Regions from separate parts of the Homo sapiens genome. Here regions 1, 2, 3, 4 and 6 are each linked to region 5. The links come from fine-mapping of genetic effects on gene expression. A gene starts in region 5. Each other region holds a variant in brackets. All regions are shown on one strand. Distances are between the middles of the regions. Region 1 has its middle 77 kb from the start of LINC01791. Region 2 overlaps TSHZ3 (teashirt zinc finger homeobox 3). Region 3 overlaps TSHZ3-AS1 (TSHZ3 antisense RNA 1). Region 4 has its middle 61 kb from the start of LINC01791. Region 5 holds the start of TSHZ3 (teashirt zinc finger homeobox 3). Region 6 has its middle 110 kb from the start of LINC01834.

Region 1 (5,073 bases), 100 kb before region 5:
TTAGGCATATTTTTGAAATGCATACTTCTCTACTTAGCCAGTGACTTTCCTCTCACATATGGCAGCCCTGGTCTTTGAATCTTCACTTAAAATTTGTCCCTTCCAGAAGACAGCTTTAGTATTAGTCAGGGTTCTTCAGAGGGACAGAACCAATAGGATGCATAGATAGATAAGTGAGAGGCTATTTATTAAGGGAATTGGCTCACATGATTATGGAGGCTGAGAAGTCCTACAACAGGCCATATGCAAGCTGGAGACCCAGGGATGCCTGCAGCATGGCTCAGTCCAAGTCCAAAAGCCTCAGAACCAGAGAAGCCAGAGGTGTAGCTTGAAGTCTGAGGCCAAAGGCCTGAAAACCTGGGGCAGGGGTTGCTGCTACACATCCTAGAGTACAAAGGCCTGAGAATCTGGAGTTCTGATGTCCAAAGGCAGCAGAAGATGGGTGCCTCGGTTCTACGTGAGAGAACCTGGAGTTCTGATGTCCAAAGGCAGCAGCAGATGGGTGTCTCAGGTCTAGAAAACAGAATCTGGAGTTCTGATGTCCAAAGGCATCAGAAGATGGGTGTCTCAGTTCTACGAGAGAGAACCTGGAGTTCTGATGTCCAAAGGCAGCAGCAGATGTATGTCTGAGGTCTAGGAGAGATAATCTGGAACTCTGATGTCCAAAAGCATCAGAAGATGGGCGTCTCAGTTCTAACAGAGAGAACCTGGAGTTCTGATGTCCACAGGCAGCAGCAGATGGGTGTCTCAGTTCTAGGAGAGAGAACCTGGAGCTCTGATGTCCAAAGTCAGCGGAAGATGGGTGCCTTAGTTCTAGGGGAGAGAAAGCACAAACTCAACTTTCCTCTGCCTTTTTGTTCTATTTGGGACCCCAGCAGATTGGATGGTGCCTGCTTACATTGAGGGTAGATCTTCCCATCTCAGTCCACCAATTCACCCTCCAATCTCCTCCAGAAATACACTCACAGATGCACCCAGAAATAATGCTCTATCAGCTATCTAGATATCCTTTAATCCAGTCAAGTTGATGCCTAAAATTAACCATCACACCCTCCTAAACCAACCTGTCTGAAGCCTTCAATGAAAGGAAAGATGCACATATATCTGTAGCTATAACTACTGACTGTTTATATGGATTAAGAGAAGTATAGTACTTCATACCTGTCATTGATGGATTTTTTTTCTCCACTGCACTTAGAAGAACTACAACCCCAAATTCCTTAGTCTGACCTTGGCACAATTCCATGCTTGGTCCCTAGTCATTTCTAATCCATGTTGGTAACTCAACCTACAATTATACTGTTACACACTTACAGACTTCACTTAAAACAAGTCTGTGGGATTTTTGCCATAGTCACTCCTAACTATCATCCATCCACTCACCCCTGTGTAGTCAGGGTCCCACTGTATCACACCAACCCATGCATGGTATCCTATATCATATAATGCCCTGAACTTTCCCGTGTCAGAGGGAGGTGAGCCCGGCAGGCTGGTATTATAGTGGTGACCGCCCTGCCGCCTGCATATGGGATGAGTCCTCTCAAATAGCAGAAGCAGAGGGGGTGGGGGCAGATGCATGTCCCACCGACACAGGATACCATCCTCGGGGGCTCCGTGCCTCCCCTGCCAAGGTCAGGGTTGTTCAGATGATATGGGGGAGCAGCGGAGTGGTGTTCATCGAGCTCTGGGAATGGGAGCTGGGTCCCCTCTCTGTGACCTTAGGAAGCTTATTTAACCTCACTGACTCTGTTTTCCTCATCTGCATTTGGAAACTTGATGTAACAATATCAAATCATGATTTCTCATGTGGAATACACTTGGAGGAGGGCGGTTTGCACTGTGGTTGCTCTACCCTGAGGGTGGTTATCAGCAAGGCCTTTTTAAAGTAGACTTGAGCTTTAGGTATTAAGAACCTAAAACATGTGCATAACTTTTGGCCTGGGATTTCTCTCCATTTTTAGGTCTGTGTTCCAAGGAAATGATCAGTGATATAGTTAAATATTTGCATTCAGGGATGTTATTTGAAACTTTATATATAACAATGACAGTGTATGATATAATTTGCATCTGTGTCTGCACCCAGATCTCATGTCAAATTGTAATGCCCAGTGTTGGAGGTGGGGCCTGGTGGGAGGTGATTGGATCTTGGGGGCGGATTTCCTCCCCATGCTGCTCTCTTGATAGTGAGTGAGTGAGTGCTCATTAGATCCGGTTGTTTAAAAGTGTGTGCACCTCCCCACTCTCTCTCTTCCTCCTGCTCTGGCCATGTAAGACATGCTGGCTTCCCCTTTGCCTTCCACCATGACTGAAAGTTTCCTGAGGCCTACTCAGCCATGCTTCCTGTACAGCCTGAGGAACTGTGACCAATTAAACCTCTGTCATTAAACAAGAAGCTACTTTTATAAGAAATTTTATAAGAAATTCTCATAAATTGCCCACTCTCAGGTATTTCTTTACAGCTGTGAGGGAACGGACTACTATAAAGTATATCAGTATAAAATTAGCCTACATCCAAATATGGAAGATTGCC[C/T]AAATTGTGATTTATCCACATAATGGGATATGTATACGGTCATTCAAAATCATTTCTTTTTTTTTAATTGAGATATGGCCTGGCTCTGTCCCCCAGGCTGGAGTGCAGAGGCATGATCTCAGCTCATTGCTGCCTCGACATCCCGGGTTCAAGTGATGCTCCCACTTCAGCCTCCCAAGTAGCTGGGACTACAGGCACATGCCACCACACTTGGCTAATTTTTGAAATTTTTGTAGAGACAGGTTTTCACCATTTTGCCCAGGCTGGTCTTGAACTCTTGGGCTCAAGACATCTGCCCACCTCAGCCTCCCAAAGTGTTAGGATTATAGGCATGAGCCACTGCTCCTTGCCTAAAATCTTATAAAGAAAATTTAATATCATTGGAAAATGCTTACAATATAAAGCAGTCAAATAAATACTCTATGTAATTTGTTATGTATGTATAAAGTATATAGGAAAATATTCACAGTGTTATTATCTCTGGATGATAGTGTTGATTGTTGGTGATTTATTATTTTTTTCTTTATTATAATATTCTATATTTTTCAATTGTTGCAAGTCAGTATACAATAAACAAAAATCTTACTTACGAAAAAATGTTGGAGTTAAAGTCTGGGGTCTGGATTTGAGTCCAGGCCCCAACATTTGCTGTGCAACCTTAAGTAGGAGAAAGCTGAAAAATGGGAAAAACTTGTCTCACCCTTCTCATTGGATAGGCAAGGAACTAAAATAAGATAATGTGCACAGGACTCATGTGGAAGGAAAATGGCAAAAAAGATAGGGGGGCTATTGCTCATATGAATCTGACTAGGAAACAAGAAGCTGCTCTTAAAAGAAATATTGATGCTTACAAGGTTTCAGGTCACCCCTATCTCCTCCAGCCTATCTTTAAAATAGACAAAATTCAAAACAAAACAACACAAAATCTCACGCAGAAGGTTCTTCTGCCTGGTAACAGAATGCTTCTGTGTAGTTAAAACACAAGCTACATCTGACAACTGCACTATCAGATGGGAGCTCTGGACATGTGAAAATCATTGCTCCTGTACTGTAAGACCTGATAGAGCCCTGGTCAGCCACCAGCCTTGCAGAGGATTACATGGGGTCTCCATACAAAGCTGGATGCTTCAAGATAGTTGCAGTCTCAAGAGTGCATTCCCTGCCTCTGACGGAGTGGTAGGGGCTGTTACAACCCATCCTGTGGTGCCCAAGAAGACACTCAGCATTCATTGCAGGTAGTGTGGCCCCCAGTGCAGCCACATTGGAATCCATTTGTAATATTTATTTAACTAGAAAATATAAACGTCCTAAGTCCCAACAATCCTACTTCTCTGCAGCAACTCTAGGGATGTATTTGCTGATGTGCATGAAATGGCTGGGCATTCCTTTTAAGTACTACATGATATTCCATAGATGAGGCATGCTAAAATAGTATTCAGACCTCAGAGACTTCTCTTATTGTTCAGCATCTCGAGTTAAGCTGCAATGAAGTGAATCGACATGTCACAACATCAAAAGTCTCCAAGAGTTTGTTTTTTTTAAATTTAAAAAAGTATGTTGCTAATCAGAATATACACTATCAAATCATTTATATAAAAATAAGTCAAAACACTACAATTCTAATTTCTGTGGGTGTATAAGGCTCAGAAAAATGTCTGGAAAGATTCATACCAAATTGATCATATTGATTAGACCTGAAGGTATGGGTGAATGTGGAGGATACAATCTTTCTTACCTGTATTTAAAATCATTTTTAAAAAGAATGTGTTCATGTATTACTTGTGCAATTCACATAAATTTGACAGTAAAAATTAAAATAGCTGACATAAAATAATTATGAATAGTCAACAACTGAACAAACAAATAAATATACTATAGTCATTCAAAGCCAGGTTTCTCATTGTTGGAGAAAGGAGTATAAAATTGGAAAGGGGAGGAGGAGACAGAATAAGCCCTAAGGTGCTGGATTGAAATTGAAGTTATAAGTAAAAACTCATGGTTTAAAAAGGGACAGAGGAAGGGAGGAAGGGAGAGAGAGTGAGGGAGGTCAGGGGAGAGAAGGAGAGAGATAAAGAAATTGTTCATATGCATACGCACAGAGGACCTGGAAGCAATGGAACTCCAATAGCAACGAGCATACTTAGCATGGAGGCGTTTCTTTCTATGTCATTCTCCTCTAAGAGAAGACAGGGCCACTTACAAAATGGTCATTGCAGGCCTGCAACCGAGAAAGCACAAGATGAGCCTGAAACTTCTGGTCCCAAAAAGTAAGGAAATGCTCAAAGAATAACAGGGACATATCAAAAGGACAAAGAAGCCAATTTGCAGAGACTCCCACTGGCCAAATATGAGGCAAATTTAGCACAAAAATAAATAATGATTGAAAATCATGATTTATTGAATGAAATAAGCATTCACCAGTTACATGGATATAAATAAATAAATGAAAAAGAAGGAAAAGCTCTTCCTTGCAGTAGAAAGACAATTAGTAAATGTAGAAGGAATACTATAATTAGAAAAATTTCCTCTTGGCAACTATCATC
Region 2 (5,073 bases), 37 kb before region 5:
CGGTCATTTCCATCATGGTACCCACGTCAGAATTACGTGCATCTGAGTCTCATCCTCCACACTCCAACCCCCTTGAGGACTGCCTGTCTTGGTGTCCCTGGCACCTGCCAGCACTGGCTTGAGCAGGTGCTTAATAAACATCTGCTCAAATTGTTTCAACACATACTCCAGTAGCCTGGTGCCCTCGGAGGAATTTGTGATGATGGGAAAATGCATGCAAGTATGTTTTCCTTCCTTGAGTTTGAGCGACATCTCCTTCCCATCCCTGGAACTGTGGGGCCCATTCATTATGTTGTCATGTTGCCCCATCTGCTAAGCCTCCACTCGGTGTCTCAACCTTCTCATGTCTCTTCCCTACTCTGGTCCCAGGTAATGAGCCTCTTTCCTCCAAGCTGCCTCTCAATGGACCAGAAGTGAAGATGAAGAGTCGAGTGACCCAAAGCAAAGAGTGTGGGGCAGATTAGAGGAGAAAAACCACAGTCTTCCTTCATCTTCCTAGGAAGATGTGAGGGTTTGGGGGCCATTCCACATGCATTTCCTTTTCTTTTTGGTGCAGCACCGATCCTGTGCACTGGTGTCCAGGGTGGTCTGCAAGTATCTGCTGCATGGATGAATGGATGAACTCAGGGACCCACTGCTCAGGAGAGAATCCCTTCCACCTTCTTAAAGGAGATGCAGTTCCACCAATCTATGACAAGCTGGAGGCCACATTCCTCCTTCAGGCACAGAATTCAGAATGAATGCAGGGAAAGGGGTGGGCAGAGTGCGGGCTCTGTGTGATGCATAAGTCACAATGTGAAAGGACACTAGGACCTCACAGGCCTAGGTCCATCTTCTGTTCTGTCCTGAGCCACAGCAGGACTTGAGCAAGCTACAAAACCTCTCTACGTTTCTGGTTCTTCCCTTTAAAATGAGAATGAAAGTCCTCTCTTTTAAGAATTGTTGTTAATGGAATTATGCACATAAAGCACTTAGCACCATGCCTGGCATGTGGCAAGCATTCAGTAAAGAACAGTTATTTTGGGGTTACAGAAATTAGAATTTTCCATCAGCAAGGAAGATTCCTGCAGTGACAAGGCCAGGATCTCTAGGGCGACATTTCAGCCCCTCACTGGGCCCCACCCTTGCAGCTGGAAGGATCATGCAATGTCCAGGAAACTCCTGCCTGTGCCATCAGCTCAGCCTCTTGAGACCAGGAAGGGAGGTGGTGCCACCTGGTAAGGTGGCAGCCAAAAGGCTTTCAGCCACCCAAAATTCTCTCTCCGTCTCAGGCCAAGGGTTTCACCAGTAGCAAGTCAGACAGACTCTGGGCTAAGCACTGCCCTGTTTTAGATACTCTTATAAAAAGCAGATAAACTTCAAGCAAGTTGGGATGGAGGGGTCTGAAGGCTGAAGGGGGTTATTAATCCACCTAACACTTTGGTTGTGGATTTATTCATCAGCACTTCCCCTATAGCCCACTCACCCCCAACAAATCCTAGGACAGATCAAGAGCATTCGTGTCTGGGGAGGCAGGAGAAGCTGGGAAAGAGAGAAACAAAATAGGTGCCAATGTGCTGCTGAGCTCTGGCCTGCCTCCTGTCACAGGACCTTCTTGGGGTGAGTCTCGCCTGTGGCCTCCGACTGCACAGGGTTTGTTCCTTATGGGAAGGAGACGTCTTGGTCCTACGGAGTCCTCCAGTACATGCAGAGATGAAGCAGAGGACAGAAGGTGCTGCACTGTGAAGGGAACTTGCCCCTCTGCCCAGCTCACGGGCTCCATACTGATCAATGCTCAGGGGGCATGGGTGGAACATGAGGACTGGAAGATGAGAATCCCGTTTAGGGTCCATTCACTGTTAGGGTGAGAGATCTTTGAGCAGAGCCACCCCTCTTTATTTGTTTGTTTATTTTTGAGAGAGTCTCTCTCTGTTGCCCAGGCTGGAGTGCAGTGGCACTATCTCAGCTCACTGCAGCCTCCACCTCCCGGGTTCAAGGGACTCTCCTGTCTCAGCCTCCTGAGTAGCTGGGACTGCAGGTGTGCGCCACCACGCCTGGCAAATTTTTGTATTTTTAGTAGAGATGGGGTTTCACCATATTGGTCAGGCTGGTCTCGAACTCCTGACCTCCAGTGATCCGCCCGCCTCAACCTCCCAAAGTGCTCGGATTACAGGTGTGAGCCACTGCACCCGGCCAAGCCACTCCTCTTTAAATCCTGGCTTCTCCATGTCATGGCCTTTGAGTCTCAGTTTCCCCATCTGTAAAACAGGCATGGTGACACCAATGTTTCCCAGGGTTGCTAGGAGAGGAGCACTGGACAAAAAGAGTGTTTTGCAGGCTGCTCTGTGCTGTGCACACCACTGCTGAGAAGAGGCCCATCTTCCCTCCCACGGCTGGAAACTATGAATCAGCAGATGCTGGCTTAGGTCAGAGAAATAAGCACAGAA[C/A]CACAAAAGAAGGATCTAGAGCTATGCTGTCCATGGGGCTAATGACTGTGTTGTCCATGGGGCTATATATGTTTAAGTTAATTAAAATTAAACAAAATGTAAAGTTCAGATCCTCCATTGCACTCATCACACTTCCGATGGGGTAGTCCTATCGGACAGCTCAGGGCAGCAAATTCCCATCAGAGCAGGACACTCCATTGCTGGCTGGAGGGGACTTCTCCTGTTGCTTCCTGAACCCCTTGGCTTCCTAATGTCCTCTCTCTTCCTCTTTAGAAAAGACACTTTCCTACAGAAACAGTTATTAACCCTTTTGGGGCTTTCAGGGCCCCTTTGGGAAGTTAATCGAAGTCAGTGTTCGCTGAAATCCAGAATCTTTCAGAGTGTGGGAGGAGTTCCACCGGTGGTACAAGAAAATATGAGGTGGTTCATCTTGAATCACACGGTAATAAATTACTCCCTTGTCAGTTCCATCTTTTTCCCTCTGATTGCTTCAAGGAGAAAGTATCCGGTGGGTGCTATTGGTCTTTAACACCTCCCCAACACTTGCTAATCCCCCTTTTTAAAGAAGAGAGATAAGGCATTAGACTCCGGTAGGAAGGCAAGAGAATTCAGCTAGGATTTAATGACATTGTTTGATTTCACGGCGTTTATTTTTATGGTTATTTTCCCTTTATGGCAAGTGATTCTGGGTCTTCATTTATAGGAGTGACACACTTTCCTTTTAAAAATAAATTTATTTGAGTTAAAACGTGTGTAAACAGTAAGTTCAGGCAGTGCATGTGGTATGCAGAAACGTCAAACAGCATGACAGGTTTGGGACTCAGGATGCCAAACCTGCTTGGGGGCAAGGAACAGTCACAGAGGCTTCCAGAGGAGACTCTGCGGGAAGCCCCAGGTGAGGGCTTTGCTCTGCTACCAGCGTTTGCTGTTAGCATTTCCACACCCGAGATTTGGAAGGGAATTTGTCAGGTTTCTATTAAAACCTCTGAATGTCCAGTTGGAGGAGGTAGTGGTTATTAAACCTCAATGTTCATAAATATGCTAATAAAAATGTAAAATTTGCAGTGAGCCATTATCAATCACAGACAGGATGCTCCACCTTTGAACGATGGCCCCCATGCCTGGCTGCTGACCGGGAGCTGGAAGCCAAGTGTGCACCGCTGGAGGGCAGCGAGGAGTCTGAGCTACATGCCTGCCACGTGCGGATGTGGGCACCTGGCAGGGACTAGGGTGGCCACGCTCCTGGCACTGCGTACCACCTGCCTGTTGGGCTGCGGAAATGGTTCCTGTCCCCACACATATGCCAGTGCCTCTGTGAGGGTGAGGCCCATCCACCTCTCCCAGACACCCAGGAAACAGGCAGCGACATGTGACATGTGAATTCACCCTGAGTTTGGACAGATTGGTGAGAGTCCCCTGAACAACGAAATGCATGGCCGTAGCCATTCAGCAAACGAGAAGGATCCTGGGACTTGAAGGATCCCTGCTCCTTGCCCTAGAAAGGCCCCATCGGAGCCAAGCCTTTCATAGCCATGCACTACCAGAAGTGGGGTATTATCGAGAAGGGTATGGCACTGAGAGTCCGGGTACCTGCATCCTGGCACCGACACTCACTTACCAGGCTGCAACCTGCAGCACACAATTGGAAGTCTTTGCGCCACAGAATTTCACTTGTAAATCAGGTAATACCTTCATCTCGGGTAATGACGGTGAGCCTTTCTCTCTGCCTGCTTCCCAGGTCCACATTTGGGAAAGGCAGGTCAGACCCCCTCGTGCCTGCCTCTCGAGTGGCTGTTGGGCTCACCGGATGCAATTGGAAGATGCTTGGTGGATGATGATGACATGATGACACAGGGTTGCCTCCCTTGTCCCCTAGACAACCAGAAAGGATGCCTCCTTCCGGCTTCTAAGGCCAGGACTAGAGGCCTTCTTTCCCTACAGTCTGCACGAGAGATGCTGAGGCCAGGCCCCAGCCATGCCAGCCTCCTTTGCCAAGCACTGCTACATGCAGGCAAGGGTGTTTCCAGAGCCATGGGAGAGAGAGCGGGCGGCAGGGAGGCATGGTCGGCCATCACTGCAATCCTGAGAAGCCACATGGGCAGCGGCCGGAACCGTGTCTCACCTGCACGGTGGGGCTCTGCCTGCACCCCTGCTTCTGCACAAGTCCATCCCAGCTATCTGGCTGCTCACCTCCTTCTGCCCAACCTTCTCAGGGCCGGGTTTCTGATGCATTGTGAATCATTTCTAATGACAGGATTTCACATCCCCTTGTGATACTACATTCTTGTGCATAACTTGTAATTTGAGTGATTGTGAATTGTTCCGAGTGCCAGATTCGTATTTTGCAATAGATCAGGGTTTTATTCATATGTGAGTGCATAATTTTGCCTCAAGATGCGTTAGATTACATTAATTAACTTTGTAGCCAGAATGGGAGAAATTAACCGTTTGGATGAACCTTGCTCTGTAATCACCGTCATTCTCAGACCCCTTGAGTGTCCACCTCCGGGGCTGTCTGGAAGAGCAGGCAGTGAAATAAAAAGAAGGGGAAGGAATTTGGGGGCACAGCTCCAGGGGAAGGCTCAGCTCATGGCCCCTGGGAGAAGCCAGGCTCCTGAGACACTGGAGGTGCTTACCTCTATGAGAA
Region 3 (5,073 bases), 45 kb after region 5:
TTATCAGGGATCCATGCCCACCCCCAGCACACACACACACACACACAACACACACACACACACACACACACGTTTTTGTGGGATGAGTCTGAGAGGACCCTCCAGGGCTGTCCACGTTTCCCACTCCAGCCCTCCTTCCTTTACCTTCACACTTGGCCTCCCGACTTACTCTCAACCCACCTCCTTGGTGTGCAAACTAACAAAATGCACTTTTCTGCCCAAACTCCCCTACATCATTAAGTGACATAGAAAGTTCAGTTCAATACGGGGGAAAATTGAATTTATCTTGGAAATGTTTTATTCTTCCAAAATTTCACTTTGGCAAAGTCTAATGCATAGAAAAGCATGAAATACTACAGCTCCAGACCAAGCAAGTTGTTCCACTAAGCATTAAGCCGCAGGGTCCGAATTCTGCCTCTCTCCCGTCAACCACTCTCTTTAACTCAAATGCCCATCAACGTCCCGGCTAAATGTGAGTTTTCCACGGATCGCATCTTATCATAATGTCACAAAACCCATAGAATTACAAATCAGGTTTAAGGCAGAAAACATGACAGGCAAATATAAGTACACAAAAAGTACATTAAGGATCCATCTTCATTTATTCTCCGCATTCCAACCTACCTCTCCGCGCAGACCCGCTCCGTGCGGCGCTCAGCTTGAAGTAGCCTCAGATCCATTTTAAAGTGGACTGAAATATAAATGACAGTTCACACTGCACATGAACATAGACAACTGTATAAAATATTTAAATAAAGACAAGAAAGAACAGAGGATTGCAGCAAAGCCTTTGGCAGAACCGGCCTTGGGGAATTTAGCAGCTTGAGATTCATTACAAATATCATCTTTAATGTTATTTTTAGTTCAATATTTTGTAGCACTCAGAAGTAAATCTTGGTGCGCTGTCTCCTCTCCCCTGCCTTTCTCTCCTTGGGTGTCTGATCCTTCAGTTGTACTGAAACCTAATACGTTTTCAATAAAATTGATTTGTGACGTCGTAATGCTGTTTGTTTACCATCTCCCATTCCTTGTTGTAATGGGAGAGAACTATTGCATCATTTGGCAAAGTGAGGAGGATTGCTCTTGATTGCTGAATAAATTGACATGAACCTGGAAACAACCCTGTTGCAATGTGAAAATGCTCCATTGAGCCTTCCCTCCCTCCTGCACTCTCCCATTTTGAAGTTCTCGCCTGGTATTCCAGTCCTGAGTGCTAAGGGATCATCTGTCCTCCCGAAAGAGAGCCATTGTCCCAAATATGGATGCAGAAGAGAGAGAAAACTTGGTTTTAAATAATTGCTCTTTGGTTTCTTTCTCAGTGTGACTCTTCATCTCTAGCTAGTTTGCCACCTCAGGAGGAAATTCTAAAAAATGGCATTTGTCCCCAGGTGAGGGGTAGGAGAGGACCAGTTGACTAGAAGCCCTGTTCTGGGGTCATTTTGCAAATTCTTCAGTCTTCCAGGGGAACTGCAGGGAGAGTTAAACAAAGCTCTGTCCAGGAGGCAGCTGGCAAGATGGAAAGGAAGGCAGAAAACATTGCCTTGCTGCTCGGCCAGCTCCTGGGGTGTATGAGTGGAAGCCCTTGAGGAAAGGACAGACCCTAGTGGTTTTTGACAGAGCAGAGCTGGGGTTTCACGTTTGTCACTCCAGGGCAGGCTTTGACTCCTGGCCCAGGGAAGTGAGGGGCTGGGGAGAGAGGCTCAGACGGGAGCTCAGAGCAGCCTGGGAAAGGGATTTTTCAACCCAGATATTAATGGGCCCATGATGTTTCCTAGATGGAGCCCTCAAGGGCAAGCCACCCTCTCTGTGACTTGGTTTCTTCACATCAAAAATGAGTCTGATGCCCTTTGCCCTTGACTTTAGTAGGATTTCTGAGGAAGAAGGAAAAAAAAATTCTCTTTTAGTATTGAAGTTATGTTTACATATGTAAAAGCAAAGGGAGAGAACTCAGGTGGTGATTTGGGTAATTTATAACTAAATAAAGCCTAATAGTGTTTTGTTTATTTATTCGTTTGATTTTTAGAGACAGAGTCTCACTCTGTTGCCCAGGCTGGAGTGCAGTGGTGCATTCATGGCTCACTGCAGCCTCCATGTCTCTGGGCTCAAGCAATCCTCCCGCCTCAGCCTCCTAGGTAGCTGGGACTATAGGCATGCACCACAGTGCCCAGCTAATTTTTATATTTTTCTGTAGAGACAGGGTCTCATTACATTGCTTAGGCTGGTCTCAAACTTCTGGTCTCAAACAACCCTCCTGTGCCTCCCAAAGCACTGGGATTATAGGCGTGAGCCAGTGCACTTGGCCAAGCCTAATCATTTTAAAAACAAAGATAGTTAGATATTTCAACTATGGAACAAAAAAATACCCAACGGTTGTTGTAGTTAGATTTTTGTTGTTTTGTTTCTTATTTATCAAGAGAACTACTTCACCAGATATTGTGT[T/C]GATGTGGCCCAAGGTTAACAGGAAAAATCAGAAGGACTCAGGTATCTGAGAACATGAGTACCCCACGCAGCCAGGATGCTGCCAGTCTAGGAAACTGAGGTGCTGGCCAGGGGAGAGCCAGGCTTATAGAATTCAGAACCGGTTCTGGGTGGCCTTTGGAATGTATTGTGATATGGTTTGGCTGTGTCCCCACCCAAATCTCATCTTGAATCTTAGCTCCCACAATTCCCATGTGTTGTGGGAGGGACCCAGGGAGAGGTAATTTCATCATGGGGGCCGGTCTTTCCCATGCTATTCTCATGATAGTGAATAAGTCTCACGAGATCTGATGGTTTTATCAGGGGTTTCCACTTTTGCTTTTTCCTCATTTTCTCTTGCCACTACCATGTGAGAAATGCCTTTTGCCTCCCGCCATGATTCTGAGGCCTCCCCAGCCATGTGGAACTGTAAGTCCAATTAAACCTCTTTTTCTTCCCAGTCTCAGGTATATCTTTATCAGCAGCATGAAAACAGACTAAACAATAAATTGGTACCAGTATATTGGGGTGTTGCTGAAAAGATACCCAAAAATGTGGAAATGGGTAACAGGCAGAGACTGGAACAGTTTGAAGGGCTGAGAAGAAGACAAGAAAATGTGGGAAAGTTTGGAACTTCCTAGAGACTTGTTGAATGGCTTTGCCCAAAATGCTGATATGGACAATAAAATCCAGGCTGAGGTGGTCTCAGCTGGAGATGAGGAACTTGTTGGGAACTGGATCAAGGGTGACTCTTGATATGTTTTCACAAAGAGACTGGTGACATTTTGCCCCTGCCCTAGAGATTTGTGACACTTTGAATTAAGAGAAATGATTTAGGGTTTTTGCCAAAGTAATGACTATTACTTTTGCACCAACCTAATAGCAGAAGTCAGGTGCATGGACTGCAGCCTGCTAAAGGCTATCTGGTTGGCACACCATCAGCTACAGGCAGCAGGACTTTGCAAGTGAAATCTCTTTCTACCATTTCTCTACCAATCTTCAATCTGCATTCTGGACCGCAAAGACAAGAAAGCTCACTGTGCCACAGTCCGTTTTGAGCATATCAGAGGATAAGCATGCTACATAATAATGGGTCAGGCAGAAGGAAAAGCTGACTTCTTGCAGCTCACATCGTAGGAGAGGAAAGGGTCAAGTTCAGAGCAGCAGAGGCACTGTTTTTGCCTTTTTTCCCGTGACATGACACCATTCCACTTAAGTAGCTGCTGTCAGATTCAATGAGAAAATACGTGTAAAGCATTTTACACACTGTCTGGCACATACTAACCACTCAATAAATGTTAGCTTGTTATTATTATCATTTTCCTAAATGGAGAGGTCAAACCAATTAGCTGAGATTTTCTTTTTAATGAAAACTCTGATGAGTTAATCATTGTGAGGTAGGGAGGCTTTGAAACCCCTGTTAACTGGGATGATTAAAACATACTTGATTAAGCTGAGGCAGTGACAGCATATAGATTTTCTTACAGGCCAACTCCAACCGAGTCATGGTGGTGGCCACTATTGTTAAGAAGGGTTCTGAGGCTGAACAAGGCTTAGGACGAGGGAGTTTTCAGATGAATTAGTCACATGTGCCTTGCACACCAGAGATATGTGGGCAGGGGTGATACATGACATTCCTGTCCTTTGGAATAATCAGAATTCATGGCTTTTATTAATCATAGAGCTTCAAGAAAACAGATTAGAAAGGCTGCTTAGCTCCATAAGCTGCAAATGTTAGAACAGAGGTAAGATGAGAAAGAAGTTTCCAGAATGTGCCAAAGGTAAATATGCTTCTTCAACGTTGTCTGGATTTTCCCAAGAAGAAAAAGGAGGAGAATGGTGATGAGAAGAAGATGGAGAAGGAGAAAATCCTTTAAGATATGACTTACAGAGGCATTATAAACTGAAAGGATCAGCGTCTAGAATGTGTGCGTGTGTGCGTGAACACAGAAAACCATAAACAAATAAGAAAAAGACAAACACCTAATAGAAAGACAGGTCAAGGCTAAGACTTCTTAGAGAAAAGCCAATGATCAATAAATAAAAGCTGCTCGATTTCACCAGTGGTCCATGCTGTGTGAACTAAAACAGCATTCTATGGCTCCAAATTGGCAAAACTTTTGAATCTGACAGTATAAAGGATTGGGAGGATGTGAGAACTGGGTAGGGGTGCACACAACTCACAAGCCCTTAGGACAGCAAGTTGGCAACCTCTAGCACAGCTATAAACGTGCCAATCTTCTGCTGTTCCAGCATTTCCACACTAGGTGTGTACTCTCAGAAAACGACAGTCAATGAGTCCCATGGAAGGATGCTTCCCATAGTATGGTGCAGTAAACATCAAAAGCCAAAACTAGCCAGACAGCCCCACAACAGGGAAATGGTGCATAGCGACCAGACACAAGATGTATGGTTTACCTCTGAGTAATAGAGAAGTGTCCACGTCATGTTTATGTAGAGAACAAGTATGGCACGGAGGACAGTCCCTCGTCTTCTACCAATGCCGTACGTTTTCCATCTAAATACAAAGAACATGTCCTGAAGGCCACACACCCACAGATAATTATGATAATACAGAATATATGGCGGATTGGGATGGGAGAGGGTCAGAGAGGA
Region 4 (5,073 bases), 120 kb before region 5:
CTGGCTTAAAAGCGGTGTGTCAGCTGGGCACGGTGGCTCATGCCCGTAACCCCAGCACTTTGGGAAGCCAAGGTAGGTGGATTGCTTGAGGACAGGGGTTTGAGACCATCCTGGCTAACATGGTGAAACCCTGCCTTTACTAAAAATACAAAAATGAGCAGGGTGTGTTAATGGGCACCTGTAATCCCAGCTACTTGGGAAGCTGAGGCAGGAGAATCACTGGAATCGGGAGATGGAGGTTGCAGTGAGCCAACCTCATGCCACTGCACTTCACCCTGGGCAACAGAGCAAGACTCCATCTTAAAAAAAAAAAAAAAGCAATGTGTCCATATGATGCTGTCCCCAATTCCTCACCTCCTTTCAATCTTCAACCCACTCTTTCGACTCCTTCAATTCCACTTCTTCCCATACCATTTGATATGGTTTCTGTGTCCCCACCCAAATCTCATCTTGAATTGTAGCTCCTATAATTCCCACGTGTTGTGGGAGGGAACCAGTAGGAGATAACTGAATCATAAGGGTGGTTTCCCCCACACTGTTCTCATGGTAGTGAACAAGTCTCACAAGATCTGATTGTTTCATAAGGGGTTTCCTCTTTTGCTTGGTTCTCATTTTCTCTTTGCCTGCCACTATGTAAGGTGTGCCTTTTGCCTTTTGCCATGATTGTGAGGCCTCCCCAGCCACATGGAACTGTGAATCCATTAAACAACTTTTTGTTTGTAGATTACCCAGTCTCAGGTATGTCTTTATCAGCAGCGTGAAAATGGACTAATACACCATTCCATCAGAACTTCCCTGCTAACCGCTCTAAATCCTATATTCCATTCTTGCCTTCCATCTGAGCACCAACCACAAGTCAACATCTCTACTTGAACACCCTGTGTTCAAGACATAAGGTGACCATATGTCTTCATTTGCTCTGGGAAGTCTCTATTTACATGTGGTGTCCTGGCATAAGTAGTCACAGCACCCCTTTCAGACTCAAAAACATCTTAGACAATAAATTTTAAGGTCACATATATTAGCAGATATAGGCATCTGTGATTTGTCTGTCCAATCTGTTTATTTCCTTATTTTCATTTTTTGCTTTTAGAGAACTATCCCTTGCAGATACTTTTTCTTTTTTCTTTTTCTTCTCTTTCTTTCTTTCTTTCTTTTTTTTTTTTTTTTTTTGAGATGGAATTTCTCTTTGTCATCCAGGCTGGAGTGCAGTGGTGCCATCTCGGCTTACTGCAACCTCAGCCTTCCAGGTTCAAGCGATTCTTGTGCCTCAGCCTCTCAAGTAGCTGGGACTACAGGCCTGTGCCACCATGCCTGGATAACTTTTTGTATTTTTAGTAGATATGGGGTTTCACTATGTTGCCCAGGCTGGTCTCGAACCCCTGACCTCAAGCCACCCACCCGTCTCAGCCTCCCAGAGTGCTGGGATTACAGGAATGAGCCACCACGCCTAGCCCAAATACCTTTTCAAAATTGTCTGGTCATATGACAGATCTACCCAGAATCAGATTGGTATAAAGAGAGTTACTGAGTCAAAAGTGGGTCAAGACCATTCACACCCAACAAATTTTGCTGACACAATTTGAGGAGGAAAAAAACCCTATTTTCTCACTGGAATTGCTATGCTGGTAGAATAGAATAGAAGCCTGAAGAGACTGGGCCAACTCTGCCACCAAACTTAGGGAGAGCCTGCTAGAAGAGAAAGGCAGCACAGTGAAAGCACAGCTTACAGCAACAGAAGGGGGAAGAAAGAGAGGATGGGAGGGAAGAAGAGAGAGATCCCTAATGCCAATGTTGAACACCAGGGGCTGAAAATCTGTTCCACCTGTGGGCTTTATATTGCGTACCCCAAAACTCTTCTTTTTCACTCAGTAAAGTTGGAGGTAGGTTTCTCTCACTTAATGACAAGACATCCAGGATCTACACAAGCATGCCTTGAACTCAGCTCCAGGCAGTCCTATCCCTGCTGTCCCCAAATCTATTCCTACTCCACCTTTCAAATCTCAGCAACCATCCAGTTTCTTCTGCCAGAAACCTTGGAATCATCTTGGACATCTTCCCTTCTCTAGCGCCATCATGAAATCTTATTGGTTTATTTTTATGACCAACATATGTGTAAACTCTGGTTCCTTCCCTCCATCCACACGGACCCCCAACAAGTCCATAAAACCATCATCTTACCTGGGCAACTCAACAGCCTCCCAGTGGGTCTTCCCATGGCCATTCTCACTCCTAACATTCTCCGTGGAACATCTAGAGTCATCTTCTTAAACTTCAAATCTGCTTATGGTGCACAAGGCCATGCTTCACTGGGGAGCTGCAAGGAGAGTAGAGGGAGCATTGCCAAGTTAAGTTAAGAGCTTCAAGACATTATTGAAGCTCTTGTAATTCCTGAATTCACCAATACAAATTCTATTTCAGGCTGGGTGTGGTGGCTCACACCTGTAATCCCAGCACTTCTGGAGGTCAAGGTGGGCAGATTGCTTGAGCCCAGGAGTTCAAGACCAGCTTGGGCAACATAGTGAAACCCTATGTCTACAAAAATTACAAAATTTAGCTAGGCATGGTGGTGTGTGCCTGCAGTCCCAGCTACTCCAGAGGCTGAGGGGGGAGGATCACATGAGCCCCGGAGGCAGAGGTTATGGTGAGTTGAGATCACACCACTGTACTCCAGCCTGAGTGACAGAGTGAAACCCTGTC[T/TA]AAAAAAAAAAAAAAAAAAATTATTAGAGACAATATTAGCATGGTTCCCAAGAATATGTGTCTTATTTTTCAATCATTATTTGCTTTATTGTGTTTCAATCAGAAGCTTAGGGTCAAACTTTCTTCCTTGAGCTGGGATATTTGAACACTGAAGGTTACTAGCACCTTCCCATGGACAGATTGCAGAGAGTGGTGTTCAGATTTTAAATAAAAATCTCTACCAATGCTGCCAGGATGTTAAGCAGAGCCTGCACAGAAGGATTGTACATGGGTCAGTGACTGCAGGGTCATTTGTAGACCCTGGTATTTGAAGTTTCCTACAGAACCTTCCTGGAAGTGAGTGTTCTCAAAGGAGGGGCATGCACTACCTCGCCACTCTAATCTTAGATCCTAACCTCTCTCCATCTCCTCCTTCCTCAAAACAGACCTGTGGGTTCCAAATTTGATTGAAACTGAGTCCAGTAATATTAGTCCTACCTGACTGGGATGCTGTCCTGACCCAGTGGTTTTAGAAGGGAGTTTTATAGAAGAAGATATGAGAAGGGTAAAATTAGAGGGGTGCATGCATGTTCCTGAAAGAGAAGACTAAACATTGTAAGGGGGCCATTGCCTCAATTTGTGTATAAGTCTATTATAATTCCAATCCAAATTTTAATAAAGTTTTCTTTGAAACCTGACAAAATGATTCTAAATGTTGTCTGGAAGAATAAATGAATAAAATAATCAAGTAAAGTTTGACCAAACAGAAAGATTAGAAACATTTGCAAGGACATTAAGATAGATTCTAAAACTACGACAATTAAAATAGAATGTTATTGGACCAAGGATGGGCAGGTAGAAAGAACATTAAGAATCTATTCCATAATAGGAGAGCTTTTTCAAGTCTCTGGGGGAAATGATGCGGGGACAACTGCGAAACACTAAAGATAAATTGATTCATCACTGCTTCACACCACATCCTAAAATAAATGTCAAGCGGATTATAAATTTAAAAATACATATACAAATGAACTAGAAGGAAATATAGGTGCATGTTTATCTGATCTTGTAATGGGAAAATCTTTTAGGTAGTGTATTACCATAAAGTAGAATCTTGATGAAATTGATCACATGTAAATTCAAATATTCTGCCATAACTATATCTAAGAGCAAATAGGAAACTGGAAAAAGAAACTTGCAATGTATGTAACAAAGGGTTTACATTCTTAAGTCTCTGAAATGTCAATGTGGACAAAAGACATGATTAGAAAATTCACAAAGGAAGTACTAACAGCAAAAATATGAAAAATGTTTAACTTTGCAAGCTGTCAAAGATGTGCAAACTGAAACAATAGTGAAACACGATTTTTCAGCTATTACACTGACATTTTCTAAAAAAGAAAAGATTATGTAGAGCCTGGGAAAATGGGCACCCACAGATTGCTAGGATGATCCTAAAGTGATACAATTGTTCTAGAGGGTAACTTGGCAAAATTCTTTAAAATATGTGTAGTTCATTTACCCAGCAATTCCTCTTCTAGGAATTTATCCTCAGAAAATAATCATAAATAACTGCAGAAATTTATTTAAAAATGTTCCCTGGAAGGTTGTTTATAAAAGCAAAAAATTAAAAACAAAATAAACGTCTGAAAATATGCAGCTGCTTAAATAAAGTATGGTGCATTATAATCCAAGGTCATAAAAAAATCATACTGAGAATTATGTAGTGACTTCAGAAAAGGTTCACAATATATAGTTAAATGGGGAAAAAAGTTGCAAACCCATCTGTACATTTCATTTTTTTGTTTTTAAAAAATGTATGTATGTAAATATATGCATAGAAAAAGACTTTAAGAGGATAACCAAAAAGTTATCAGTGATTATCTCTGGGCGGCAAAAGTGTTGGTGATTTTCATTATTCCTCAAATATTCTGCAATAAAAATGTATTACTTTTTGTAACAAGATTCTTAAAAACATTAACTTTTATTTAAATCCTGCAGAGAAGTCAGGTATCAAAAAATGGTCTTCAGGAAGCTTTTTCGGGGAAATTCTTACAGCCAAAAACTGGGGAATTGCTGGGGAAAGTGGTCAGACCTAAATGCAGCTGAGCTAGGAGAAGACAACCCACCTCTCAGGGCCACGGTCCTGGAGTCAGCAGCCCCATCACTACCCCTGCTTCCCATCACTGCTTTTTTTTTTTTTTTTTTTTTTTTTGAGACGGAGTCTTGCTCTGTTGCCCAGGCTGGAGTGCAGTGGCCCAATCTCGGCTCACTGCAAGCTCCGCCTCCCGGGTTCATGCCATTCTCCTGCCTCAGCCTCCCAAGTAGCTGGGTCTACAGGCTCCTGCCACCACGCGCGGCTAATTTTTTTTTGTATTTTTAGTAGAGACGGGG
Region 5 (5,073 bases):
AGGACTGTGTAATATCAACTTGATTACATCAAACTAGCTGCAAACCTAATTCTGCTGGATGACACTGCGTCGAGCTTGTCATCTCCAATCATTAAAGCTGTCAGGAATCCATCAGGTTTACAGCTAATTAGGTGAACACTAATGAAGCTGGCAAAACAACTTTTCTTTTTTTATGGCTGAGCGGACCTTTCAGTTTGGAGGGGAAAAAAATTCTCGAGTATTCTCAAGGTTGCTGGGGACTGGATTTCCAGTTACCAATCAGCAGACATCTTTCTTTTCCCCACTCTCTCTCTCTATCAGTACAAAGCAATCAATTTGTCATCACTCCCAGTATGCCACAAAAGCTGGCATGAACCTTATAACTTGCAGCTGGGAAAACTAAAAAAGAGGAGAAAAAAATGGGAAGTTTCTGGTCCATCCAAACAAACAAACCACCCCCAAAAAAAAAACCTCTGTGCATACTTATCACCAGCCTAAATGTGGAGTTTTTTTTTTTTCTCTCCACTCTTCTTAAATAAGTAGCTCTTCAGTCCGCCTCCACCCCCTCCTCCACATGTCCATTAGGCAGAGGCATTCTGATAAAGTAAATCCAAAACCCGAGTATGGGAAAGAAATAAAGCACTCATGCTGCCAGCTTCTGATTGACCATTAAGCTATTGATGAATGTGCCTGTCAGGAGAGAGACAATTAAATCAAATATGAAACAAAGTCGTTTTGACGGGTCATTTTGATAGAGCAAAACCATTCTTCCATCTCCTATTAGTCCTGCAGTCAAGTTTTTTATATAATGAATTTTTCTTAACTGACCTGAGATTTCCTGGCTGGCTTTCTTTAAAAAAAAAAAAAAAGTGTGAAAAGGTTAGTGAACAGGTTGCTCTAAAAATAAATAAATAAATAAATAAATAAAGCCAACAGCAGGTTCCCTCCTCCTCTGATATTTTTCTGGAGGAAGCTATCAAATACGAGTCTCAGATTGGCAGGGTGCAACCGAAGAGATGAACTAGAGAGAGAGTTCTGAACCAAATGTAAAGATGTAATCACATATGGTTCATTGGATGGAGGCACACACATACCTTAAAATGTGTATCCAAAAAGGAAAGAAAAAAAAAATTTCAAAGACTGGAAGAAGCCCAAGACATTCCTACTACTCAACTTTGTGAAGGATTCCTCCAAAGTTTCAGAGTTTATTTTGGGTAGATAAGCTCATTGCTTGAGCCTGGAATTTAAAGTAGAAGGTGGGACGGGCAAGAAGCAAGCTCCAGGAGGTTAACTAGGGAGGCGGCAAGCTCCCTACAATCACTCCTGGAATTTTCAAACTTTCTAAATTTGGGCAACACCGAGGACAGAGAGCAAAACCTGCATCCTAAGCCCCAAACCAACCCTGTTTTCTTCTGAGATTTTCTGAAGACACTGGCAGGCAAGTACATTTCTGGGAGAAGAGAGAATTATCATTCCTTCTCTGTGACCCCGTGTAAGGGGTCTGGAGTGCAGAGTGCAGCCAACGTGTGAGGTCCCCTGGCAGTGCCGGCTGGCATGATGGAAATTATGGGCACTCAGGGCACCATGGCTACAACGCCTTCCTCCAAGATGGGCACCAGCCAATGCCCTGACCCTACTCTCTGCCCTTCCCTCTTAACATCAAAAGAGAAGTAAAAGAAAGGAAGAGAAAAGAAAAGAAAGGAAGCCCCACTTAACCCTCCCCTTCAGGGAGCATCTGAACCTCTGCACATCTGAGTGTTACTCATATCAAAATACATCACGTCCATATGTGGTCCTCTCGGCAATCCGCCCCAAATCCCAAAGTTGCACTGACAGGGCCCTCCTGACGTCACAGAGCTTGGCCTCACTATTGCAAGTGATTTATTGATGTTTATTGGGAATGAATAGATCAAAGGCAGCAGCATGACGGGCGATCAATCAGTCATCAAATCAAGGATGGCAACGGGCCAGAAACCCTTCTTCCAGGCAACATGCCCCCAACCGACATTATTGCAAAATAATGTTATGTGTGTGGTTTTTGTTTTGTTTTCAATGATGCGTTTTCCAGAAAAGAAAAGAAAAAAATCGGCTCAGTCTTAACAGGAGTTGACACTCCCGGTTAAAGAAGAAGAAAAAAAAAAAAAAAGGAGGAACAAAAAAGTACTCAGACACGTCCCAGAACTAAGTGCTATGCGGAGATGAGGGTGGGAGCAGCAGTACAAGGAGGGGGTGGGGGCGAGGAAACACAAACAGGGGAGAAGGAAACGCCAGCATCTAACATGGACTTGACAGTCATCTGACAATACCCAGACCCTGTGCGCTCCGGGTTCCACCGCTGTGCCCAGTTTGGGCCCAAGAAATGAGGAATCAATCGTGTTAGTACTAAGGTGGCCGAGGGGACCGGCTCGCTCACTCGTTCGCGCTCCCTGGCTCGGCGGACACCAGGCAGTCCCCCGGCGGTCGGCCGCTCGGAGGACGCGGAAGATGTCCCGGGGAACTCAGGTGACCCCGCCCGCCACCCACAGAAAGAGCCAGGCCGGGGTTGCTTCCCATTCCCTCTGCAGCCGGAGAGCTGAGGAGGTAGGGACCTGGCGCGGCTCAGCGCGCTCCGCGAGCGGCTCCCCAAATGGGTGCGAGAGGGAAGAGGGCAGAGCGCGGCGGGGCGTCCGGGGGGCGCCCGGTACCCGAGGCGGGCGCACGCACCCAAACAGGAGAGCGGCGCCCGGAGTTACTCAGTGCGGGCAGAAGAGCGGGGCGAGGAGCGGGGTCGCGCCCGCTGGAGGCGCGGGGCGAGCGGAGGAAGAGGAGGAGGAGAGCAGAAGGAAGGGGAAGCGGCTCGTACCTGCTGCGCGCCGGGGCGCCTGCTGCTTCCTCCTCGGCATGATGCTTCTCCGGCGACTGCCACTGCCGCCGCCGCCGCCGCTGCCGGGCTGAGGACAGGGAGGGAGGGGGCGGCGGGCCCGCGGGGGGGCGAGGCGGGCCTGCTCTCAGCCTCCCCCCCGGAGAGCGGCCGCCCGCAGGATGCTGCTGCGCCCAGGCTCTCCGCGTCCCCCCCGCGCCGCGCTCCGCCGCGAACCCCGAACGTGCGGAGGGAAGAAGGAGGGCGGGCGAGGGAGGCTCGGGGAGGGAGGAGCACGGGGGGGAGGAGGAGGCAGAGGAGGAGGAGGTGGAGGAGGAGGAGGAGGACCGCGCTGCCGGCGGAATGGGAAGTTTGACAAATCGCTCCAGAGGCCAGAGGAGGAGGGGGCGGGGAGGAGCGGCGGCCCTGCCCCCCCCCGCCCCGTCCCCAGACGAGGTGCGCGGGGTTCGGGGCTGGGGGGCGGGGAGAGGGCGGGCAGAGCGGTGGGAGGAGGAGCGCGGGAGCGGCCCGGACCGGTACTGCCCCGGCCCCCGCCCCTAGGCCGGGGGTCACGGCATCCGGGGGGACGCGCAGCCGCCGCCGCGGCCCGGGGCTCGGCGGTCCAGTCTTCTGCCCGTGGCGCGGCTGGAGCGGCGGCGTCGGCAACAGGCAAGCTTAAAGGAAAAGGAGATGATCGTGTCAATCGCCCGCCCGCGGGGGCGCCGCGCCCCCGCCCCCGGCCCCAGGCCCGCGTGGGACCCCCGCCCCGCCAGCGAAAGGGGTGCCGCCCCTCCGCCTCCGCCCCGTGCGCACACGCGGGGGCGCGGCGCCAGCCCCGCCGAGCCCGTCCCGGGGCGCTCGTTACCCCCCACCCCTATTCCCACCCAGCGTTCGTCCCCAGCCACCCCCCAGCTGCCCCACCCGGCTCGCACTCCTCTCCACCCGCCGACTCCGGAGCCCCCAGCGTGGTCCCCGGGCCGGGGCTGGCGTCCCCCGGGGAAGCCAGAGCCCACGGGCAGGCCCCCTCCAGGGAGGAGGCGGGCGCGGGCCGGGGCGGGTGGGGGCAGCCCTCAGACCCCGCGCCACCCAGCTCCTCCCCCAGGACCCGCCGTAGCCACTTCCCCCAATTTTTTTTCCCCGGACAAACTTTCCTGGGCCCGTCCCGGGGGTCGGTGTGGGAGGGGGTTCCTTCAAGTTTCCTCTCCTGACTTTGGGATGATCAGGGTCCCTCCACCCCGCCCCTCGCCCCCGGGAGCCGGGCCGCGCCCCCCATCCACGGCGCGGGCCGATCCTAGGGCGGGACGGGGGCGGGAGAAGGAAACCGGGCTCCCCTGCCCATCCCCCGCCAGGGGCTCCCCCCGAGAGCCTAGGGGGCCGCCGCGCCGTGTCCCGCGCCCGGCCTGCCGGGGCTGCTGGACTAGAGGGATTGATTATTGATTGGTGATCGGGGTCGCTGAGGCTCCGGGCCGGCCCGGCCGACTGGCCGCGGCAAGAAGGAGCTGGCTGGGCGGCGTGGGCGGCGGGGCGACGCGGGCTCACTTACGGGCGGCGGTGAGGGCGCGGGTGGGCCGGAGCTCATGCGGGCGACCCCCGGGCGGCGGCGGCTGAGCGGGAGCCGGAGCCCGAGCGGCGCGGGCGGCGGCGCATCGATGCGCTGCGGGCTCGATTGCGTCTCCCTGGGCCAGCTCTCAGGCCGGGAATGGGGCGGCCGCGCCGGGGCCGGCTCCGGGCGCTGCCGGGCGGCGGCTGCTGGAGCGCGGGGGCGGCCTCCGGGCCCACTATCCCCGAGGCGGCCCTGCGCCCGGGCGCGCCGGCTGGGGCTCTGGCGCTCTCGCAGGCCCCGAGGCCGACAGTCCCGGCGAGGGCGGGCGCCCCGCGCTCCAGCACCGGCTGCCTGAGCGCTCCTGGAGCAGCAAACCCCAGACTTCTTCCTCCTTCTCTCCTTCCTTCCTTCCCCCTCCCCTTATCTTTTTCTTTTTTTAGTCTCTTTCTCCCTCTTTTTCTGCCCTGTGTCCTTTTTATTTTTTCTCTACGACTGTTTTTGCAAGTTTGTTTCAAAAGTTCACAGCATGCTTTCTTTTCTTTTAGACCGGGAGACAGTGATCTCACCCACACGGTAAGATCAAAAGTCTCCGCTCGCCCAGCCTGCGGGCTTGGGCTGGGTCCAGACGTCTCCCAGGATGCAGATGCGCCGCCGCTGGCCTCCCCGGCTATAAAGCCGCCTCCAGCGCCTTTCCGCGCGCAGGAGCGCTCGG
Region 6 (5,073 bases), 560 kb before region 5:
GAGAAGGCCCAGATTATAAATCTTTCCCCCAGAGCAATGCAGTTTCATTGTACTTAAAAATAATTAAACAAATCTGTAAAACATGTTTCCATTGCATTAGTTTACTTCACTTGGCCCCGCAATGTGAGGATCATAATTACTTAAATATTTCCCTTTACTATTTTTCAAAACATTTTTCTAAATTGTCGAAAAACATTCTGGAGACAGTTGGATAAAAACATAGTGAACATGTGTCTGATTAATTTTTTAAGACAATCGAGATCAAATGCAAAAAATGATTGGAAATGGTTTCAGAGTGACAATAAAAGACAGAAATCTCAGAGCGGGGAGTGCGGTGACTCATAAGGCAGAAAGGATTTATCATTTTTACTACAGTATTTATTTGAACGCACATGACAGGGAGCGAGCTGGCCTGGTGTGCAAATTGCCAAAGGTGGAGTGTGGCCCGAGGAGGCTGTGTCCAGTTAGGGCCATTCCCCCAAGTGGGCTCCAGGACCAGGCTCTCTCCTGATGCCGAGCTTGTAAAACAAGAGATCACTCTCAGCAGCCATTCTTTGTCTCCTGTCATTACAAACAACTCGAGGGCAATCCGCTGGCTTCTCGACAAGCAGATCTGTCCCTCATCTGTCAGCTGACAATCAGGCCACCATCCCGAGGCCACCGCTCGGGCTGCCGGGTGATGGAAAGCCACTTGTCAAAGGAGGGTTGATGATGTTTACTTACAAGCACTTCCTAAGCTTGAACTGAATTTCATTTGACTTTATTCAGTTTATTTTGTTGAGTCCTTTTTTTAAAACTTATTTTTTAAGTTCCAATAAACAATAGAGATCACGGAATGTGATTTCTTTTTCTAGCAAAACAGTCCTACCCTTCTGCCCTCCTTCTCTAGCATCCATTGTCTGAGAAATGTCACAAGGGGAAGAGAGGCCGGGCCTCCCTCTGAATTCTTTGCCCTTCCAGGGGTGATACGGTTTGGCTGTGTCCCCATCCAAATCTCATCTTGAATTATAGCTCTCATAATTCCCACGTGTTGTGGGAGGGACCCAGAGGGAGATAATTGAGTCATGGGGGAGTTTTCCTCCACACTGTTCTCATGGTAGTGAATAAGTCTCACGAGATCTGATGGTTTTATAAGGGGTTTCTGCTTACACTTGGCTTGCATTCTCTCTTACCTGGGTGCCTTGTTGGAAGTGTCTTTTGTCTTCCACCATGATTGTGAGGCCTCCCAGCCATGTGGAACTGTGAGTCCATTAAACCTCTTTTTCTTTATAAATTACCCAGTCTCGGGTATGTCTTTATCAGCAGCATGAAAACAGACTGACATAAGGAACTCCAAGAAGGTTCCAGGCGGGGACACTGCAGCCAGATCATCTATCAGTTTGAAGGATACAACCCCTATTTTGCTGAATGAATTTGGGTCTCCAAGCATGGAGGTGCGTACGCTAGGGCTCTACCCTAAATCCCAAACTGGAACTCTTTTGAAGGGACCTCAACATATTGAAGGTCATGGCCCTATCAATCATTCTCATATCCCCATGACATTTTCTTTATTTTGTCCTTAAGACAATTTGTATTATTTTTTATAGTGCAGAGACTAATATGCCTTTTTGTTTGAAATGGCCAGATATAGGAGGTTGTTGTCCCAGGTTTCACATCACAGATAAGTATCTTTGTTTCAACTGGAAGAAAAGGACAGGCAATGGGGGCCGGTCTTGCCCGTGATGTCCCAGGCCATTCTTGGCACCTGGAGTTGGTTTGAGTAGGACCCTAAGTCCTGGATTCTGGGAGCCTGGGCCCTGTATCATTTGCTGAGGGCAGTTAGGCATCGTCTGCTGGAAGTTGGGGTGCTCTTTGGTGGCCCATGCACAGAAGGGAATTGTCAGGCTGGAGTGAGATAAAGTGATTGTCCACCTGGTACTCACTGGCCCATAATCTATCCCTGGGAAGCTGTGTTCAGGGCTGGAAGGTCAGCTTTATTCCCTGGTCACCCATGCTCTTACTGCTTCTGAACATAAGGAACAAACAGCTCACCTTGGCCGGAGGTATAACATGTTCATGGAGGTGAACCAAATAGTTAGAATTATATACAATCATGGCTTGGCCCCTTGATGTTCATTCAAGTCAGGTAGAGGGTGCTCTAGGAGCTCACAGGTAGTGGGGGATGAAAAGTGGATGTGGGTGAGAGAGGGTTGAACACACACACGCCACACTCAGGTGGTGGGCTGGGCCAGTGAGCACCTTAGGCTGGTGCCTAAGGAAGATGTGGGAGGGGCTGAGGCAGGGAGTGGCCTGGGAGGATGATGGCTTCAGGGAGAGCTCCTGTCCACACTGCAGGGATATTTGCTGTGCTGCCCTGAGATTTCCAAAATCTAACGCTGAACTTTATCTTACTTCTCTCTTCTCCAAGACTTGAGTTTCTAAGCTTTGAACATTGTGGTGGTTTGGATGCATTTTGCAGCCATAATTTGGTGAGGATTTCTTGCCAATCTTTGTAATCATTGGAGGTCCTGGATCCCGAAGATTTAAGGGTAGGGGCCCAGACCTACCACCCAGAGTGCTGAGTGCCTGTGGAAGCAAGAAGCAGAGAAGGGGGTTGGGGCAGGGAGCTGCAGCCTCACGTGAGACACCTCTGCCCTGCTGGCTGCACCCCTCCCTTTTGTTGCCAATTCTTTACCTACTAAGGTGCAGCCAGATGGAAAGAAACCTTGAGTTTAACTCCTTTCTTGAGAGTGGCATCAATCATGTGCCACCTTTGCTAGGGAATCCGAGGGCCTCGTGAATAATTCAGAAATGCTACATAGAATACTTGTTACTCCCAAGTGTTAATGAAAATATCAAGGGAATTAATTAACAGTCAATTATATCAATTTTAGAGTTGGACATTGATTCTGATGCTGAGAGCTAAATCTGAATTTTTGCTACAGTTCCTTTTCCTAATTCTCAACTTGTCTTTGTCATTTCTAGTCAAACTTATAGGGGGGAACATGTTTGAATTATTTTCATTGCCTTGCTGTATTTCAGCTTACTTCTGATAAATAAAGATTAAAAAAAGAACTGGTCCAGTATTACATATTTTCTACAGCTGTATGTGTACATGTAGAGGTGTTATCTTGGTCTTTGTATTA[A/C]ACTGCTTGGGGGAAAAGGGAGTTTCAAACTATGGATAATACATTACCAACAAAAGCGAAAAAGCAAAAATAACATGCATACTATTTGCATAGAAATGTACATATTTTACCCAGACCATCACATGGAAGAGCTCACAAGAGATGAGAAGATGGAAAAAGAAAATTGCAGGTAGTGTTTTCACCAGTTGTTGATGACAATGGGAGCATAGGAGTCTGTCCATCCTGAATGTGTGACAAGTTTTCTAGGCATTTGTTAAACTTCACATATGAAGAGATTTTTCAACCCCTCTCTGATCTTTGATATTAAGAAAAAGCATTTCATTGAAAACAGTCTTTGCAGGATTTGGCACGAGTCGTCTAGACTGCTTTATGAAAAATGACAGCTAGTAGAAAAGTAATTAAAGATGTATTTTGCTGAAAGCAAAAGTATTTTTGGAATCAATACCAACTATCTTTAATTTGCCAGTTCTTTCCACAATCATTGTGTGTTATCTGGAGGATCTCAATTCTAGAGAACGGAGGTGCCAGCCCCTTTCTGGTCTTGCTTTTACGTCCTCTGTCTGCTTCCTCACCATCCTCAAGTAAGGTTAGAGGAGGGCTGGGCAGGGAAGAAGAGGCATGGTCACTGTGGTGGAGCAGGAGCCAGTGGATCTCTCCCAGGAAAGCCAGCTGCTCAACGAGCTCCTCCCAGGGCAGCAGAGATGTTTGAAAAGTAGCAGCAATGAATCCAGGTGCAGCAAAAGAAGCGGTTGTTGGTGGTGGTAACTCTGGTTTTAAGTTGGAAACAAAAGGGGAAGGCAGCTTCATTTATGCTTTTGAGAAGTTTTGAGGCAGAAAGACAGCCCTCCTAACTCTTCTCCTCTCTTTGTTGTTGTTTTGTTTTTTTTGAGACAGTCACTCTGTCACACAGGCTGGGGTGCAGGGGTACAATCTCAGCTCACTGCAACCTCTGCCTCCCAGGTTCAGCCGATTCTCCTGCCTCAGCCTCCCAAGTAGCTTCGATTACAGGCATGAGCCACCATGCCTAGATAATTTTTGTATTTTTAGTAGAGACAGGGTTTCACCATGTTGTCCAGGCTGGTCTCATACTCCTGACCTCAGGTGATCCACTTGCCTCAGCCTCCCAAAGTGATGGGATTACAGGAGTGAGCCACTGCGCCCGGCCTCTTCACCTCTCTTTATGGGAAGCATTTGCCTTAGCTGGTTGGGAGCTCCCTGCAGGTGGTCAGGGCTACTCTTCCCATTTCTGTGCGAGATACCAGGTAAACCACATGTACTCCATATGTGCTTGGGTGTGGCTTGATTGATGATGACAAGATTAGGCTCCCAGCCTGCAGGGTCCCCTTTTTGGCCCTATTCTCCCCTTCTCTCCCTCACATATCCTTTCTTCACCTGCCTGACACTCACTCATCTTTCAGGAGTCAGCTTAGATGACACTTCCTCCAGGAAGCCTTCTTGGAATGCCTCACCACCCCAGTTGCATCTCAGAAGATCAGCTCTTTTTCCACCCAATTCCATCACGCTGTATTTGGTTAATGGTCTAACTTCCTTAGAATTTCTGGGGACAAGGGCCAGAATTTTCTCACCAATTTTCTCCCTTTCCTAGTATGGGGCCTTGTACTGTACTCCTTGTGTTTGAGGGAGTCAGAGGCAGGGGCTGAGGACAACAGACAGCATATTGTAACTGCAGTCATGTTTCTGCCATGTGTTTCTCTCACCCTCTTAGCCTACAGGTCTCTGGGTCCATGGGAGTGGTCCCAGGGTTTGAACAGACTGGCCTTTTCCAGGTCTCTCTGTGTTAGAACATGAAGGCCTCTTCCCTCTCAGCACCAGAGAAAAGCTGGGGTCAATGGGCAGTGAGCCCTCCACCACTAGGAGGACACTGGGAACCCGGCACTCGTTAGGACTGATGGGCAGGTGGATTGAGGAGGTGAGGTGACTGAGGGAC

The links. PIP is the estimated chance that this variant, and not a neighbour inherited with it, causes the effect.
Region 1: its variant is the best candidate, but not a certain one, in a credible set for the expression of TSHZ3 in whole blood (TOPMed, PIP 0.60).
Region 2: its variant is the best candidate, but not a certain one, in a credible set for the expression of TSHZ3 in blood mononuclear cells (TOPMed, PIP 0.77).
Region 3: its variant is the best candidate, but not a certain one, in a credible set for the expression of TSHZ3 in whole blood (TOPMed, PIP 0.52).
Region 4: its variant is the best candidate, but not a certain one, in a credible set for the expression of TSHZ3 in whole blood (INTERVAL, PIP 0.57).
Region 6: its variant is the best candidate, but not a certain one, in a credible set for the expression of TSHZ3 in whole blood (INTERVAL, PIP 0.86).

What each region holds. Positions count from the first base shown.
Region 1 is chr19:31,242,063-31,247,135 of GRCh38, forward strand. It overlaps a transcript of TSHZ3 not described here. Among named protein-coding and RNA genes, the nearest start is that of LINC01791, 77 kb to the left of the region's middle. The variant C/T (reference allele first, on the strand shown) is at 2,531.
Region 2 is chr19:31,309,850-31,314,922 of GRCh38, forward strand. All of the region lies in intron 1 of TSHZ3 (teashirt zinc finger homeobox 3), which reads right to left. Among named protein-coding and RNA genes, the nearest start is that of TSHZ3-AS1, 9.4 kb to the right of the region's middle. The variant C/A (reference allele first, on the strand shown) is at 2,427.
Region 3 is chr19:31,391,663-31,396,735 of GRCh38, forward strand. All of the region lies in intron 1 of TSHZ3-AS1 (TSHZ3 antisense RNA 1), which reads left to right. Among named protein-coding and RNA genes, the nearest start is that of TSHZ3, 45 kb to the left of the region's middle. The variant T/C (reference allele first, on the strand shown) is at 2,440.
Region 4 is chr19:31,225,824-31,230,896 of GRCh38, forward strand. It overlaps a transcript of TSHZ3 not described here. Among named protein-coding and RNA genes, the nearest start is that of LINC01791, 61 kb to the left of the region's middle. The variant T/TA (reference allele first, on the strand shown) is at 2,701.
Region 5 is chr19:31,346,359-31,351,431 of GRCh38, forward strand. TSHZ3 (teashirt zinc finger homeobox 3) reads right to left here and starts at 3,078. Exons shown (of 2, transcript NM_020856.4): 1 at 2,822-3,078. The coding sequence starts at 2,861. It overlaps TSHZ3-AS1 (TSHZ3 antisense RNA 1), which reads left to right. Exons shown (of 3, transcript XR_002958388.2): 1 at 1-2,559.
Region 6 is chr19:30,790,774-30,795,846 of GRCh38, forward strand. No RefSeq gene overlaps it. Among named protein-coding and RNA genes, the nearest start is that of LINC01834, 110 kb to the right of the region's middle. The variant A/C (reference allele first, on the strand shown) is at 3,126.